2 separate regions of the Homo sapiens genome follow, and region 2 is linked to region 1. A link means that fine-mapping ties the variant in region 1 to the expression of a gene that starts in the linked region. Tissue or cell type: ovary. Region 1 holds a variant in brackets; the other region holds the start of a gene. All regions are shown on one strand. Distances are between the middles of the regions.

Region 1 (8,000 bases):
TGGCCCCGGCTTGTTGTTGGCCATGCTGCCCTGAGCGCAAACCCCATTCCTCTAGCCTGTCCCCGTTTCTAGTAGCTCGCTCTCAGGCTTTCTCCAGTCTCCCTAACTTCCTTTTAAAGTGTTAAATATAGTACAGCACAGAAGGGTATGAAAGGGAGAAGAATACGTAAGTTGGACAGTAACAATGTCCTTGACTCCTAGGAAGCTCAGAAATAGGTCTGTGCTGTGCCTGGATGGTGCCTCCGTGCCTGGGGATCTGGAAGGGTGGAGACAGACCCCAGAGCAGCCGCTTCCCTGCGGGGGCCTCTCCCAACACCGTAAGGCCGCGGGTGCCTCAAGCAGCGCCGAGAGGGGCTTGTGTTTCAGTGACATTTCCTTGAAGTCCAGGTATGGGGTTTCTGTAAATGAAGGCTTTTGCCTGCCTTGTTCTCCAGTGTCAGCCTAACACTCACGTGAGCCAAATAGGCCCGGCCAGACCCAAGACAGCTCAGTCACCTGTTCCGCATCAAACATCAGATTCCAGAGCCGGACTGGACCAACGTCCTGCCGTGGCCCAGTGAGCGAGGGTTGCTGGCGTCTTTGGGATACTCGGGAGCAGCCCGCCATCCCCGTGTCCCCAGGGAACTCTTCAGAGCACCCCCCAGCAGCGTGGAAGCCCCCGGAAATGCAGGCTTGGAGTCCCCCGAGGGAGCCAGGGGTGTTGTGGTGGGAGGGGCGGCCAGGTGCCCGGGACGGGGTGAGGCGGCGCCGGCGGGGCAGCCTGGGAAAAGCACAGAGGTGGCTTTGCAGTCCCACTTCAGGGGGACCCTGCCTGACCTGGGATGAGGTGTGTGGGCTTTCTGGGGCAGGGGCGGGGACAGGTTGTAAATCTGAATTTGTCTGATGCTTCCTCAGAGATCTGTATCATGGTCATTTCATAGAAACGGCAAACTCTGTCCCAGCTCAAAAAGATGCTATTAGACTAATCCTTTGATCTCTTTACGTGTGCGGCTCAGCTTTCAGATAAACCTGCTTGATGTTTTGAGGGTTTTCTCTTATTTCCGTTGCTTCCTCGAGGGAGAGTAATCCAGTCTAATTTGCATTTCTCTTACTTTTAAGCTGAGCTGCTGCGCCCTCACGGGACACAGTCATGGGGAGCCCTCTGCCCCATGGTGGGCATTGGTGAAGCCACAGTGGTCCCGGGGGCAGACCTCAAGGGTGCACAGCAGCAGCCCCTTGGGCCCTGCCTGCCCAAGCCCCACCTGGCCCCACCTGCCCTGTGTTGGGGACTTTGTATTTCAGCCTCCATGCAGGGTGACGCTGGGACTCCCCAGCTTCCGGTTCACGGCTTCAGGGTCCAGCAGGTTCTCCTGAAGCCCCATCTACCGCTGGCTTCCTGCTCACTCTCCCCTCTCCCGCTCTGTCTCTCCAGAGGAGGCCGGGCCTGTGGAATTAGGCGGCTGCTTCACCTGAACTCACTGCAGTGCCGGGAAAGGAGCCTCTGGAACTAGACCCAGGAGCGGATCTGCAAAGGCTACTCAGGGTTCTCCCAGCGGCTCTGAACCCCGAGGCCAACTCGCCCTCCAATCACCTGGCCCCTGAAGCAGGCGGAGGCCCCTGTGCACAGTGGGCCTGTGGCCCCATTTGGTTCAGGAGTGATGGTGACACGGAGTTGGCTCCATCGAGGCTCCTGGCAGCATTACATCCTCTAAGAATAAGTCATAAAGAAAGCACTCCTTGTAAGATACACGATCCACCAGGCTGCCTCCAACCACAGCCTCATCTCCATCCGGGGTGTGTCTAGGTTTTCTTTTTTATTATTATTTTTTATCATTTGAGACATGTTCTCCCTCTGTCACCCAGGCTGGAGTGCACTGGTGTGACCTCAGCTCACTGCAACCTCCACCTCCCAGGCTCAAGCAATCCTCCCACCTCAGCCTCTCTGGTAGCTAAGAGGTGCATGCCACCATGCCCAGCTAATTTTTTTTTTTTTTTTTTTTGTAGAGACAGGGTTTTGCCATGTCACCTAGGCTGGCCTTAAACTCTTGGGCTCAAGCGATGCTCCCGCCTCGGCCTCCCAAAGTGCTGGGATTACAGGTGTAGCCACCATGCCTGGCCAGTATCTAGGTTTTCAAGTTAGACTTAGTTTTATTTGCAGAAAGAATAATGAATACATTATTAACTTATTCTTTGATAGTTAGAAATTAATAGGCATTTTATATGTGATCTTATGGTCTTACTCTTGGTTGGCTGTTTCTGAAGGAGTGGCTTTGTTATCTGTAATTTGTCTAATTTAAAAATCAATTATAATGAAACCAGCATATGTGATTCACAAGGCTTTTTTCCACCTGGACCAGAGTACACCAGCTATTGCATTGCCAAAAGTAGGTGTGTTCCTGTTGTGTGATGTGCAGATGGGGGGCCCCTGCAGCAGGGAAGGCAGGCCAGGAAACCCCTTCGCAGTCTCTGCTGAGGGGCTGGACCCGCTGCTTGGGCGGGACTCCCCGCAGGGTGCTCTGCTGCAGTCTCCTCCTCTGCCCGCCTGCGGCCCAGAGAACTCTGAATGCTAATGGCAATGCCAGCTGCTTGGCAGCATGAGCTTCTTGGGGCGCCTGGGCAGGCCTGGGCACTTCTGCCCTTTGTGCCATCCGCAGTCCTGTGATTTCCTGACAGTTTCCTGAAAGCGCAGAATGGGACTTGTCGATGTCCTTGGCTGCGGAAACGCGGTGTCTTGTCCTAACCTTCTGCAACGCACACACACCTCTTCCGCAGTAATGAATGGTTTTTTGTTTTTGTTTTTGAGACAGAGTCTAGCTCTGTCACCCAGGCTGGAGTGCAGTGGCGCGTTCTCGGCTCACTGCAAGCTCCACCTCCTGGGTTCATGCCATTCTCCTGCCTTAGCCTCGCGAGTAGCCGGGAGTACAGGCACCCGCCAACACGCCTGGCTAATTTTTTTGTATTTTTAGTAGAGACAGGGTTTCACCGTGTTAGCCAGGATGGTCTCGATCTCCTGACCTCGTGATCCGCCTGCCTCAGCCTCCCAAAGTGCTGGGATTACAGGCGTGAGCCACCGTGCCCGGCTAATGAATGGTTATTTTAAAAAATAAACGTATTTCGGGATAATTTTAGGTTTACAGAAAAGTTGCAAAGTGAGCGCAGAGGGTCCCTTCTGCCACTCCGCAGCCTCCCCTCTGTAACTTCAAAGCCCACAGGGCATGGCTGTTGTAGCTGAGAAACCGTCGCTGGGTGTCCCTGTGAACTCCGGACTTTGAATTTCACTATCAATGTCCTGTTTCTGCTCTAGGACCTTGTCCCCGCTGCCACCTGTGGGAGACAGCCTCCCGTGCACCATTTGCCCAGCACCCTCAGGCCTGTGACGGTCTCTCAGTCTTTCCTTGTCTTCCATGCCCTGCAGTTCTGAGAGGGCCTGGCCAGGCAGTTTGTCCAGGTGCCCCGATCCAGGCTTGTCTTGTGCTTTCTCGTGGGGGTGGACGACAGGTTTCAGGGAGGGGTGCTGCCGCCTGTCTCACCCCACTGTGGCGTCCCTGACATCCAAGTGACATTACAGACAGCTCTGACCTTCCTCACCAGAGTCAGGTGTCTGTAGGTGTCTCCTTGGTGACAGGACTGCTTCTCCCTTTGCACATTTAGTCAGGCAGCAAGTCCACGGCCGTGGGGGGGCTTCTCCTAGACGGGAGGATCTGGAATAGCTTGGACTTGTATTTATTTATTTGATCATTTGTTTGTATCCGGATGGGCTCATTTTATATGTGTTTTAAACTCTGAGCTAGAAGGCAACACTACTTTCTTGTGAAGCACACCATCTGTCCTTGGCCCTAGGGAGCTCCTGCCGTCGGCTCCTGGGTCCCCTGATGCACCCCTTTCAACAGACTTTTCATTTTGGGGTACGTCCTGACTTCCTGGCACTGCAGGGTGCTCCAGCCTCCTCTTGCATTCCCTGCCCTGGCCCGGGAATCAGCCCCTTCTCCAAGGAGCCCCGGGTCCTTTTATTGGCAAGTCTTAAGAGAGTGAGGCCTGGGTGCCAGGCAGGGAGCCCCAGGTCCTTTTATTGGGAAGTCTTAGAGAGTGAGGCCTGGGTGCCAGGTGGGTGCCAGGTGGGTCCGGTGCTGCTGGGATGTTGTCACGTGGAGGCCCTCAGCTGCAGAGCAGGGACGAGGGTGTCACCTGTTCAGCTGCAGAGCAGGGATGAGGGTGTCACCTGTGTGTATGAACATCTCCGCAGCCACTTCTGTATCTGTGAAGAGAACATGAGTTCATGCTACTGCCTCTGACTCTAATTCAGACCCCAAAGCTCCTTCTAACCTTCCTAGAACGTTATTTTTCAGTTTAAAAAAAAAAAAAAGTTTTGCAAAGGGCATACCG[C/T]GAAAGGCCCAAGTGGTTGAAAGTCCCAGCTGAGGCTGAAGAGGCGCCTGCGAGGCAACAGGACAGGCTTCCCGTTCAGTTCAGGGGTGCTGTCCTCCAGGAACTATGCTGGGGGGCAAGTACAGGACGTCCTGGTGTGTGGTGCACAGGGACTGCTGGACACGGAGACCCGTGCCCTTCTCAGCGTGGGGGCCGCTCCCCGGGACAGTGACCACGCTCCCGCCAGCCTCCCACCCCACCTGACCTCTGTCTGTGAGGGGCTGGACCAGGGTCCTGCCTGGCCCGGCCATCCACAGAGCAACCCAGAATGTTAATAAAGCCTGCAGAAGCTGTGTTCTCCTTCGAGAAGCTTCTCTGTGGTTACAGACTTTTTAAGAAATATTTTGTCGGCTGGGCTTGGTGGCTCATGCCTGTAATCCCAGCATTTTGGGAGGCCAAGGCAGGCGGATCACCTGAGGTCAGGAGTTTCCGAGACCAGCCTGGCCAACAGGGCAAAACCCCGTCTCTACTAAAAATACAAAAATTAGCCAGGCATGGTGGCAAGCGCCTATAATCCCAGCTACTTGAGAGGCTAAGGTGGAAGCATTGCTCGAATCTGGAAGGTGGTGGTTGCAATGAGCTGAGATCGTGCCACTGCACTCCAGGCTGGGCGACAGAGCGAGACTCCATCTCAAAAAAAAAAAAAAAGTTTGTCATTTAAAGTAGAGGCACAGGCCAGGCGCGGTGGCTCATGCCTGTAATCCCAGCACTTTGGGGGGCCGACTCAGGTGGATCATTTGAGGTCAGGAGCTCGAGACCAGCCTGACCAATATGGTGAAACCCCATCTGTACTAAAAATACAAAAAAATTAGCCAGGCGTGGTGGTCCGTGCCTGTAGTCCCAGCTGTGGGGAGGCTGAGGCACAAGAATCACTTAAACCCAGGAGGTGGAGGTTGCAGTGAGCCGAGATTGCGCCACTACACTCCAGCCTGGGCGACAGAGTGAGACTCCATCTCAAAAAAATAATAATAATAATAAATAAATAAAGTAGAGGCAGGGGGCAACCTAAATTAGCACCAAAATTCCTCCTAATGCTCCTGTTTTCTGAAGTGAGTGACTGAATGTCGGAGCTCTGAATGTCTTACAACTGGAAAAATGTTAAAGATCACGTTTGCGAAGGAGGGAGGCAAGCATCAGAACAGAACCTCGGAGCAGGTCTGCACGCGTGCAGGGGCCGTGGGGCCGCGCTGGAGTCGTTTCCTGTGCTGCTCTGTGCTGCTCACAGACGCTGCCACTCACCCACTGGCCACGGCCCCTCCCGCAGCTGCGGATGATCTGGGCGCATAGCGGGCGTGCAGGTCGCGGCGCCAAGGCCTCTCCTAGGCCCAGTGGTCTTCTCCGTCTCAGAGAGCATTGACGGCGGAGCTCACAACTGTCAAGCACCTTAGTCATGCCGCAAACATTAATCATTGACAGCATGTTGACCTATGCGCTGATTAAAAAGAAAAGCTCCAATAATGTAATTCCAGGAGAAAGTACACAAACCTCTGGTGGCATCTTTTCAATCCACCACAGAAACCAGCTCAGGTGGGGCCGTGGGGGTGTTGGCTGGGGCACCGCCGCAGCAGTTTGGGACACATGCCTGCCACGGTGCGCCCAGGCTGATGCCCACAGCCCTGCTCAGGAGTGTTGGGAGCGGTGGACTCCTGAGTTTGATTTTCTGTGCTGGCCTGGCTGGAGTGAAGCTCCTTGGAGTTTGGAGAAAGATTTCCATGCTGATTTCCCTTTGTTTTTGTTTGTTTGTTTGTTTGTTTGTTTTGGAGACAGTCTTGCTCTGTCGCCCAGGCTGGAGTGCAATGGTACAATCTCGGGGTTTCACCGTGTTAGCCAGGATGGTCTCGATCTCCTAACTTCGTGATCCGCCCACCTCAGCCTCCTAAAGTGCTGGGATTACAGGCATGAGCCACTGCATCCGGCCCTGATTTCCCTTTTTTTTTGAGATGGGAGTCTCGCTCTGTCACCCAGGCTGGAGTGCAGTAGTGCAATCTCGGTTCACTGCAACCTCCGCCTCCTGGGTGCAAGCTATTCTCCCACCTCAGCCTCCCAGGTAGCTGGGATTACAGGTGGCCACCACCACACCCAGCTAATTTTTGTATTTTTAGTAGAGACTGGGTTTCGCAACGTTGCCTGTGCTGAACTCCTGACCTCAGGTGATCCACCCGCCTCGGCTGCCCAAAGTCCTGGGATTACAGGTATGAGCCGCTGCTCCCGGCCCATACTGGTCTTCCAGTGAATGAATGTAGGGGGCAAACTGCACTGAGGCCAGGAAAGAGCTGATTCTGGAGGTGACAAGAACGTTCTGAGCAGCACTGGGGCAGAGGCGCAGTCAAGAGTCCAATGGGAGCTGGGCGCAGTGGCTCACGCCTGTAATCCCAGCACTTTGGGAGGCCGAGGCAGGTGGATCACGAGGTCAGAGGTTCAAGACCAGCCTGACCAACATGGTGAAACCCTGTCTCTACTAAAAATACACAAATTAGCTGGGCGTGGTGTCAGGCACCTATCATCCCAGACTCAGGAGGCTGAGACAGGAGAATTGCTTGAACCCAGGAGGCGGAAGTTGCAGTGAGCTGAGATCGCACCACGGCACTCCAGCCTGGGCGACAGAGTGAGACTCCATCTCAAAAAAAAAAAAAAAAAAAAAGGGGGTCCAATGGGGGGAACTTGGGGCCTCCTGCCTGCACCTGCCTCTGTCCCCGGTGTCTCAGGGGCTCTCCACGGCCACGTCACTGACTGGCCTGTTGTGTCCTTCTTGCAGCAGTCCTGCGTTAACTGCGGCCGGGAGGCTATGAGCGAGTGCACCGGCTGCCACAAGGTCAACTACTGCTCCACCTTCTGCCAACGCAAGGTAGGTCTCACCTACACCAGGCTCAGTGCCCCCGCCTCCTCCCTCGCTACGAAGACCCCTGGGTGGCCCTCCCTCCCCTTGTGCTCCTGGTGCCACACCTGACTCCCCTCCCTGTCCCTCCCTCTGGGAATCCGGGGCTCCTGCCTGGCTCCGTGAAGACCCTGCAGAAGGCTCACATGTGACATGGCCAGGTAGTGCTCTCATGTGAGGCCCCACAGTTGGTGGCCGGAAACCCTGAGGGCTGCTGGTCAGTGCTTCCCAGCCCTCCACACCCCTGCACAGCCACGCAAGAGAGACTGTCCACAGTTCCATTATTGAGCCCTCCACACCCCTGCAGAGCCACGTGAGAGAGACTGTCCACAGTTCCTCTATTATTCAGCCCTCCACACCCCTGCAGAGCCACGCAAGAGAGACTGTCCACAGTTCCTCTATTATTGAGCCCTCCACACCCCTGCAGAGCCACGCGAGAGAGACTGTCCACAGTTCTTCTATTATTGAGCCCTCCACACCCCTGCAGAGCCACGCGAGAGAGACTGTCCACAGTTCCTCTATTATTGAGCCCTCCACACCCCTGCAGAGCCACGCGAGAGAGAGCGTCCACAGTTCCTCTATTATTGAGCCCTCCACACCCCTGCAGAGCCACGCGAGAGAGAGACTGTCCACAGTTCCTCTATTATTGAGCCCTCCACACCCCTGCAGAGCCACGCGAGAGACAGCGTCCACAGTTCCTCTATTATTCAGCCCTCCGCTCCAC
Region 2 (8,000 bases), 40 kb before region 1:
AAAATGTCTCTGAGAACCACACTATAAAATAATTACTCTTGAAAGGCTGTGGAAACAGATAGCAACTCTTAGGACAGGTTCTTCACGGTGTTAACAGTCCACTCACCCAGGTATAACCGAACTGCTTCTAGAATCCCCATCAGAAACAGCAGAGCAAGATCGAGGACCAGGTAGCGGTGAGGATAGCTGAACACCTGACCTGAAGAGCAGAGGCGCGGACGGAACATAAGTAACCTGGCACAGCAGCAGCAGCCACCTCAGCTTGCCTTTTCCTTTTTTTTTTTTTTGAGACAGGGTCTTGCTCTGTCACCCAGGATGGAGTTCAGTGGCGCAATCTTGGCTCACTGGAACCTCCACCTCCCGGGTTCAAGCAATCCTCCCACCTCAGTCTCCCGAGTAGCTGGGACTACAGGCGCCCACCACCACGCCCGGCTACTTTTTGTGTTTTTAGTAGAGATGGGGTTTCCCCATGTTGGCCTGGCTGGTCTCAAACTCCTGACCTCAAGTGATCCGCCCACCTCAGCCTCCCAAAATGTTGGGATTACAGGCGTGAGCCACTGTGCCCGTCCCTGACTTACTTTTATACGTGATCATCAGGAGCGTGGCGAGGAAATACAGGGCGTAGTACGTTCCGCTGAGATAAAACAGCATTTGAAGGGGAACTGAAGAGAGCTGGTGAGTGGTTAAGGATCCTCAAGCTCAACAGGCTTGGGAGCAGCCTCCCAGGTGGCTGAACAAGAGGGGCTGGTTCTGTCATCTGTTTGGTGGCCACAGACACCAAGGGACCATGGAGTCTTGGCAATGGCTCACTGCCTATCTGAGGCTTCTGTCACTATGCTGGCTGCCAATGTGGTCCCATGAGCTGACAAGGCCTTTGTGGGACCCCCCTCCATGCCACAACAATGCGGTCTGTGCACTGCAGCCCCTGCCCTCCTGACTGTGGACAGGACTGGTCAGGGGACAGCCTCCACACACTGGCATCCCCAGTGATGTCACCCTGCCTTTGGCCCCAGTTATGAGTTAAGAGAGAAAAAATAACTTTGTCATTTTCTTTTTTTTTTTGAGATAGAGTCTTGCTCTGTTGCCCAGACTGGACACTGTGCAGTGGCACAATCTTGGCTCACTGCAACCTCCGCCTCCTGGGTTCAAGTGATTCTTCTGCCTCAGCCTCCTGAGTAGCTGGGATTACAGGCGTGCAAAACCATGCCCAGCTAATTTTTTGTATTTTTAGTAGGGACAGGGTTTCACCATGTTGGCCAGGCTGGTCTGAAACTCCTGGTGTCAAGTGATCTGTCCACCTCAGCCTCCCAGAGTGTTGGGATTACAGGCATGAGCCACTGCGCCCGGCCACTTTTTTCAGTTTCTTCAGAGGAAATATATTTCTGTTTGGGGGACTTAAGTATCTAGTAGCCATTTCCTGAGCTGTGTACATTTCCTATTTGTTTATGCTAACATGAGTCTATGGGGCCAGGCACAGTGGCTCCCGCCTGATGCCAGAGCTTCAGGAGGCTGAGGCTGCAGTGAGCTGTGATTGCCACACTCCAGCCTGGGTGAGAGGAAGGCTCTGTCCTTAAAAAAACATAAACAAACAAAAATAAAATAAAATGAATCTAGGGACAAAGTGAGGGATTTCCATCTTCCTGCCACTAGCGGCCGAGACAGAGGCAGGTGGCCATCGCCTTGGGAGCCGGCAGTGTGGCGTGCTTAGCCACTTTGTGCAGGGCTGAGCAGGTAGGGGATGGAGCCAGCAGAACTGATCCGAGGAAGTTACATCAACTCTCTAAATCTGTCAAGGAACACCCCCCTCTCCAAAGTGGAATTACTAGACAGAACTTAGGGAAAACGTGGGGTGAGGCCGAGTGCTCTCTGTGCAGCAGCAATTCGGGCCTCTGGGTGCTGTCCTGGAGGGGCACGCAGCAGGATACCACTGTGGAGGATCCTCTCCCTGAAAGAGAAAGGGGCCGTGAGCAAGGCCTGACAGCCACCAGGATGCTTTCCCGGGTCTCGCTCCACACTGACAGGAACCACCCCTGCTTTATTTTCCTTTGATCTCGTATTTGTAGAAAGCAGCAAACATATACCGTGGGCCTGCCACTAGATAGCTCCCGTGCCTCTCTAACCATCCTTCAATGAGGCTAGGAGTCTCTGCCTTTCAGAACCTGAGGCTGGAGACAGCGAGTACCGGGGGCACCGGGGTGGGAAGTGAACCTGGGCCAGACCCAGCTGGCCCTCAGGGAAAGCAGCACCCTGGAGCCCACCCCAACAGCTGCTCTCATTGTCTGTGGCTCACCGTCTGTGGCTTCTCCGTATTTGCCACACATATATGACTAGATGAAAACCTTTTCTGACTTAGGTTGTAACAAATCTTTTTTCATGATTGATGAGACATTTGCTTTCCTCTGAAATTTTATCCCCAAATATCCCTCCAAAAATAAGGATTTTCCAAACCAGCAATGCAGCTGTCCAGTCTTTTTATCATGCAACCTCTTGGGCCTTCTCCCACCCCCACCTGAGAGATGACAGGAAGCCCGAGGAGTGAGTGGAGTCTCTTTCCTCCTTTTTGATTCTGAGGTTTTGCATCTGAAGACGCCTCTGACTCACCCTGGATCCACGCTGACCTGGAGCGGACTAATTGTCTGAAAAGGGCTCAGGCCAGTTGCACGTGTGATATGTGCACGTCCCTCCATGTGTAGATACCTCAATACACATCTAGAATTGGGTGGAAACCTCTCATAAAAGGAGGCTCAAGCTGCACCGCTGGGCGGCAGGCAGGACAGCAACCTGAACACAGCCTCTGTTCTATTTCCCCTTCAGCGCCAGGGAGGGCAGGACAGAAACCTGGCGTTGGTGAGATTTTGTGGCTGATCCCACAGCTTCTTGGGCAGATCTGGGGCCTTCTGTGCCAGAGTTTGTGGAATCTCACACAGGCAAGAGTTTTAAGCCAGTAAATACAGGACATCGGCATCAGAGACTCAGAACTGGGCTCCTGGAAGAGGCACCACAGGATGGAAGCAGGAAGCCAAGTGCACGGCAGACCACGCCGCATCGCGTTCCCGGCAGGCCACTCTTTAAACCCGATCTGTTCTTTTCCAGGCCTTAGCTAAACCAGGCCACCTAAATACCTGTCATTATCTGTGATGATTTCGCATTAATTGGGGTTTTTGTCCCTTCTGTTCCTTTTCTTAAAGGCTGGCTTCTTAAACACTTCCAATGTGTCTGCTAGTTGCTCACTGTTATAGATTGAAGTTATGGGGCTTGGGGGAAAAACTGTATAAAAGCCTTAAGTGATGTAACATTTTAATAATTAATATGAAGGGCGGCTATAACCAGATACGCTGTTCTAACAATTCCAGACCTGCAGGAGCTCATTCTGACCGAACGTAGCCTTGGCTTTCAGGACAACATTTTTTGTCAGTGACTTACTATAATCACAATGTGGCTACGAATAGCTGTGTCAGGCAGAAGTTAAACATGGAAGTGAAAGAGAACAAGTGTTTTCCCTGATGTAATGGACAAGATGTGTTAAGAAATCTTGTTTTGGTATACACTTAGTTTTTTTAGAGACAGGGTTTTGCTCTGTTGCCCAGGCTGGAGTGCAGTGGCCTGATCACAGCTCACTGCAGTCTCAACCTCCTGGGCTCCAGTGATCCGCCAGCCTCAGCCTCCCACGTAGCTGGGACCACAGGCTCCCTGAGGTAATTTTTTTTTTTTTTGAGACAGAATTTCGCTCTTGTTGCCCAGGCTGCAGTGCAATGGTGCGATCTTGGCCAACTGCAACCTCCGCACCCCACCCCCCCCACCACCACCACCGGGTTCGAGCAATTCTCCTGCCTCAGACTCTCAAGTAGCTGGGATTACAGGCATGCACCATCACGCCAGGCTAATTTTGTATTTTTAGTAGAGACGGGGTTTCTCCATGTTGGTCAGGCTGGTCTTGAACCCTCGACCTCAGGTGATCCGCCCGCTTTGGCCTCCCAAAGTGCTGGGATTACAGGCGTGAGCTACTGCGCCTGGCCTTCCCCGGGGTAATTTTTAATTTTTTTTTTGTAGAAGGGGGTCTCGCTCTGTCGCCCAGGCTGGAGTGCAGTGGCGCCATCACGGCTCACTGCAACCTCGACCTCCTGGGCTCAAGTGATCCGCCAGCCTCAGCCTCCAGAATAGCTTGGCCCACAGGGGTGCGCCACCGCCTGGCTGATGTTTACAGTTTTTTTTTTATAGAGGGGGTCTTGCTATGTTGCCCAGGCTGGCCTCAAATGATCCTGCAGCCTCGGCTTCCCAAACTGTCAGGCTTACAGGCCTGAGCCACTGCGCCCAACCTAAACTTAATTTTTAACCAAATGAAAATACACAAAACAAACCTGGTTACTAGAGGCTGTCCTGCCTATGGAGTAGCCATTCTTTATTCCTTCAAAACAATGCACCTAATTACTAGAGAACACGCACGAAGGTTTGGCACTTCAGCGCCCGCGTATGGGAGTTCTGGCTGTACCCACAGACAGCAGAAGGCGGCTCCTCTGCAGGATGGCCGATTTACTGCTTTGGTCTGTCCCTTCCTCCTCTCGGAGGCGAGTCTCTCAGGCAGGACGGCTGAGGCACCGGCGCCCGCGATTTTCTTTGGCGAGAGTTCCAAGGCTACCGAAACCCTGCGCCCATCCCGCCCACGTGTCTTCACAAAAACCACGCGCGGGACAAGAGCTGCCGGGGACTGGGGCCCCCAGAGCCGCTCCGCACCCACCCTGCCCGGGGCCAGGCGCCCGCGCGCGGGGGAGCTCTTCGGGGTGCAGGACGCCCGCCACCCAGGCCAGGCCAGGCCGCGCTTCTCGATGGGGTGACGGAGCTGTCTCGCTCACGTAGAGACGGTGGCACGGCCCCGTGAGCGCACCGAAAGCGGAAACCGGATTGTCACCACAGGGAAACGCCGCGCCCGCCGCTGCAAGCCCGGAAGCCCCCACCCCGCCCGAGCTCACCTCGCCGCGGGGCCGCCATCTTACCCGCCCCGCCCGCCGGTCCGTCGCGATCCCGGCAGCCTCTCGGCCCGCGCGCTCGCGCTCCTTCGGCCATTTTCGCGTCTCCTGACGAAGGGGCCCGACCGCGCCGCGTTTCGGGAGCGGACGTCCGAGCCACGGCCGAGGCCCGATTAGTCCGTCCGGCACCGCTCGGGCACTTTCGGAAGGGAAGAGGTGGAGAACCGACGTTCGGGAGCATTCGGCCTCGGGGACATTCGGCTCGTCTCGGCTCGGCCTCGGGCTGACTCGGCTTCCGCCGGCGGCGGGAACGGGCGAAACCCGCGGCACTAAGCTCTCTCTGAGAGGCAGAATTGCGCCGGCCGCCGGCGAGAATCTGCCTAGAGCCGTCCAGCCCTGTCGGCCGGGGACGACAGCCGCCTCAGCCTGTCAGGACAGTGAGGAGAGCAGGGGCCGAGTCTCTCGGAAGCCCTCGTGAGGACTCGGACCTATTCGGACTGATTCGGCTTCCCACTTCGGGGAACTTCGACCCTCCTCGGTTCAGGACTCGGTCTCGGCTCGGCGGCTTCGTGCAGGTTCGGCTCCTACTCGGGCAGCCTCTGTTCGCCTCGGCTCCGCTCCGCGGGCGGACTCGGCTCGGCTCTGCTCGGCGGCTGGCTGCCTTTTCGGTCCCTATTCGGGCGGCGGCTTCGGGCGGCCTCGGCCCAGCTCGGGCGTCCTCTTCGGGCCCCGCTTCGGGCTCCGCGACCGGCGCTTCGGGCGGTCCCGGACGGCGCCTTCGGGAAGGCTCGGCGGAGTCCGGATGGAGGACTCGGACTCGGCGGCAAAGCAGCTGGGCCTGGCTGAGGCGGCGGCGGTGGCGGCCGCGGCCGCTGTGGCGGCGGCGGCCGCGGCCGCGGCAGGAGGCGAGGCGGAGGAGCCGGTGCTGAGCAGGGACGAGGACTCGGAGGAGGACGCAGACTCGGAGGCGGAGCGGGAGACGCCGCGGGTCACGGCAGTGGCGGTGATGGCGGCGGAGCCCGGGCACATGGACATGGGCGCCGAGGCCCTGCCCGGCCCCGACGAGGCCGCCGCTGCCGCAGCCTTCGCAGGCAAGTGCGCCCGCCGGCCTCTCGCCTCGTCCGGTTCCCGCGCGCCTACCCCGCGCGCCTGCCCCGCACAACTGTCCCAGGTGACCAGCCCGCCACACCTGTCCCTCACACCTGCTCCACGTGACCAGCCCGCTCCACCCGCCCTGCACACCTGCCCCTCACACCTGCTCCACGTGACCCGCCCGCCCCACCCGCCCTGCACACCTGCCCCACGTGACTAGCTCACCCCTCACATCTGCCTCTCACACCTGCCCCACCCGCCCCTCACACTTTCCCCACGTACCTGCTCCAGGTGACCAGCCTGCCCCACCTGCCACAAATACCTGCCTCGCACACCTGCTCGACGTTTCCAGCCTTCCCCACCTGCCCCACGTGATCGGCCTGCCCTACCTGCCCCGCACACCTGCCCCACATACCTGCCCCAGGTGACCAGCCTGCCCCACCTACCCCAAACACCTGCCCCGCACACCTGCCCCTGGTGACCTGCCTAGCCTCACCTGACCTGGCCCTGCCCTGCACACACCTGCCCCCTGCCCCCCTTTTCTTTGTGGCAGCCCCGCCTCCTACTGGTCCCCCCTGTGCAGCTCTGCCCCTGCCCTGCCTTCGTCCATCCTGGCTCCCCCCACCTGTCCTGGAGAAGCCCTGGGGTGGGTGGGCACCTGTGGTCACCAGGAACCCCCCACTTCCTGAGGGCCAGTTCAGGCATGACCTGAGCGCTGGGGAGCCAGGGGTGGGCAGCCTGCTGGAGGCCATGATGCCAGAGGTCAGCGTGGCTGTGTGGTGGCCCAGGGGGGCTGCGGAGCCACCTGTGCAGGCTCCCCTCCCAGTCCTCCCTCTTCCTCTTGCCTTTTTCCCTAAGGACCTGCTCCTCCTGCCCCGCTTCCTGTCGGGCTTCCTTTGGGGAGGCTGCTGTGGCTTTCCAGTCCACATTTTTATATAAGCTGCTTATAGTTTCTTGCCACACAGGTCAGTCTCCTTCTCAGGCTCCAAAACACTGGGAGCCCGTGGCAGAGCTCACAGATGCCCTACGGGGCTGGTGCCGTCCACCCACCTCCTGTGTCCCGCCCTTGTGTCCGTGGGGCATAGACTTCCCCACCCACTGGCTTCCTAACGCACTGTATTCTTCCCCATTGGAGTTCCCGAGTGTCCCCCAGGGACTCACAGCTCAGTGTTGAGACCCTTGGGAGGAGCTTCTTGTTGCGTTGTGAGGCACTTTTCCCCTACGGAGCTTTGCGGGTTGAGGAACTGGATCCCAGTCCTGGTGTGCTGGGTATGTCAGGGCATTGCGTGTGCTCTGGGTGCTTGTTCGGCCTGGGGGCTGGGTGGGGGCCAGCAGCGTCTGGGCTGCCCTTGGTCAGCTGAGTGGCCCTCGAAGGCAAAGGGGTCACTGCTGCTTGTTTGGTTGGTTAAGAAAAAAAAGTGAGGGAAGGCTTTGTGACTCTCAGGGGTTGGCGTCCGTCGCTAAACTCTGGTTTGACGTTGGGATTTGGAGCCATGAGGTTGATTTCAGGTTTTTGTCATTTTTGCACGTATTTTTCTGAATGCATAAAAGAAAAATGATGCTGTTCATCATGATGTCAGAGAAATGTGCTGACGTGTGTTTTCTTCTGAAAAATATGGTAGTTGTGTTTTGATGTGGTAAAAGCACTTTAATACTTTTTAAAAATTACGAACAGCTGACGTCAAGTGGTTTCCAGGTTTAAGTAACTCAGCAGGACACGCTGCCGCCTGAGGAGGCTTTGGGCGGCTGCTCCCAGGGCTGCCATGGGCCTGGCGTTGAGCACTCACTGTGGCCGCGCGCCGCATGCCGGGGCTTGTGGTGCTGAGAGGCGAGGATGAGGGAACCGTGCACCTGGTGTGGTCTGGTCGTGGAGACAGACAGCAAACATGCCTTTTTTTTTTTTTGAGACGGAGTTTCGCTCTTGTTGCCCAGGCTGGAGTGCAA

The links. PIP is the estimated chance that this variant, and not a neighbour inherited with it, causes the effect.
Region 2: TMEM80 starts here. The variant in region 1 is fine-mapped to the expression of TMEM80 in ovary (GTEx, PIP 0.91).

The regions. Positions count from the first base shown.
Region 1 is chr11:653,208-661,207 of GRCh38, reverse strand. It overlaps DEAF1 (DEAF1 transcription factor), which reads left to right. Exons shown (of 12, transcript NM_021008.4): 11 at 7,157-7,246. It overlaps LOC124902603 (a long non-coding RNA gene), which reads right to left and starts at 6,185. Exons shown (of 2, transcript XR_007062543.1): 1 at 5,641-6,185; 2 at 2,104-4,234. The variant C/T (reference allele first, on the strand shown) is at 4,363.
Region 2 is chr11:692,814-700,813 of GRCh38, reverse strand. It overlaps TMEM80 (transmembrane protein 80), which reads right to left and starts at 4,998. Exons shown (of 5, transcript NM_001042463.3): 1 at 4,968-4,998; 2 at 1,926-1,945; 3 at 579-672; 4 at 107-199. The coding sequence starts at 4,986. DEAF1 (DEAF1 transcription factor) reads left to right here and starts at 5,592. Exons shown (of 12, transcript NM_021008.4): 1 at 5,592-6,055. The coding sequence starts at 5,767. RefSeq lists enhancers at 3,454-3,993, 4,534-5,073, 5,074-5,615, 5,616-6,155 and silencers at 4,601-5,020, 5,521-5,820, 5,831-5,950, 5,971-6,220.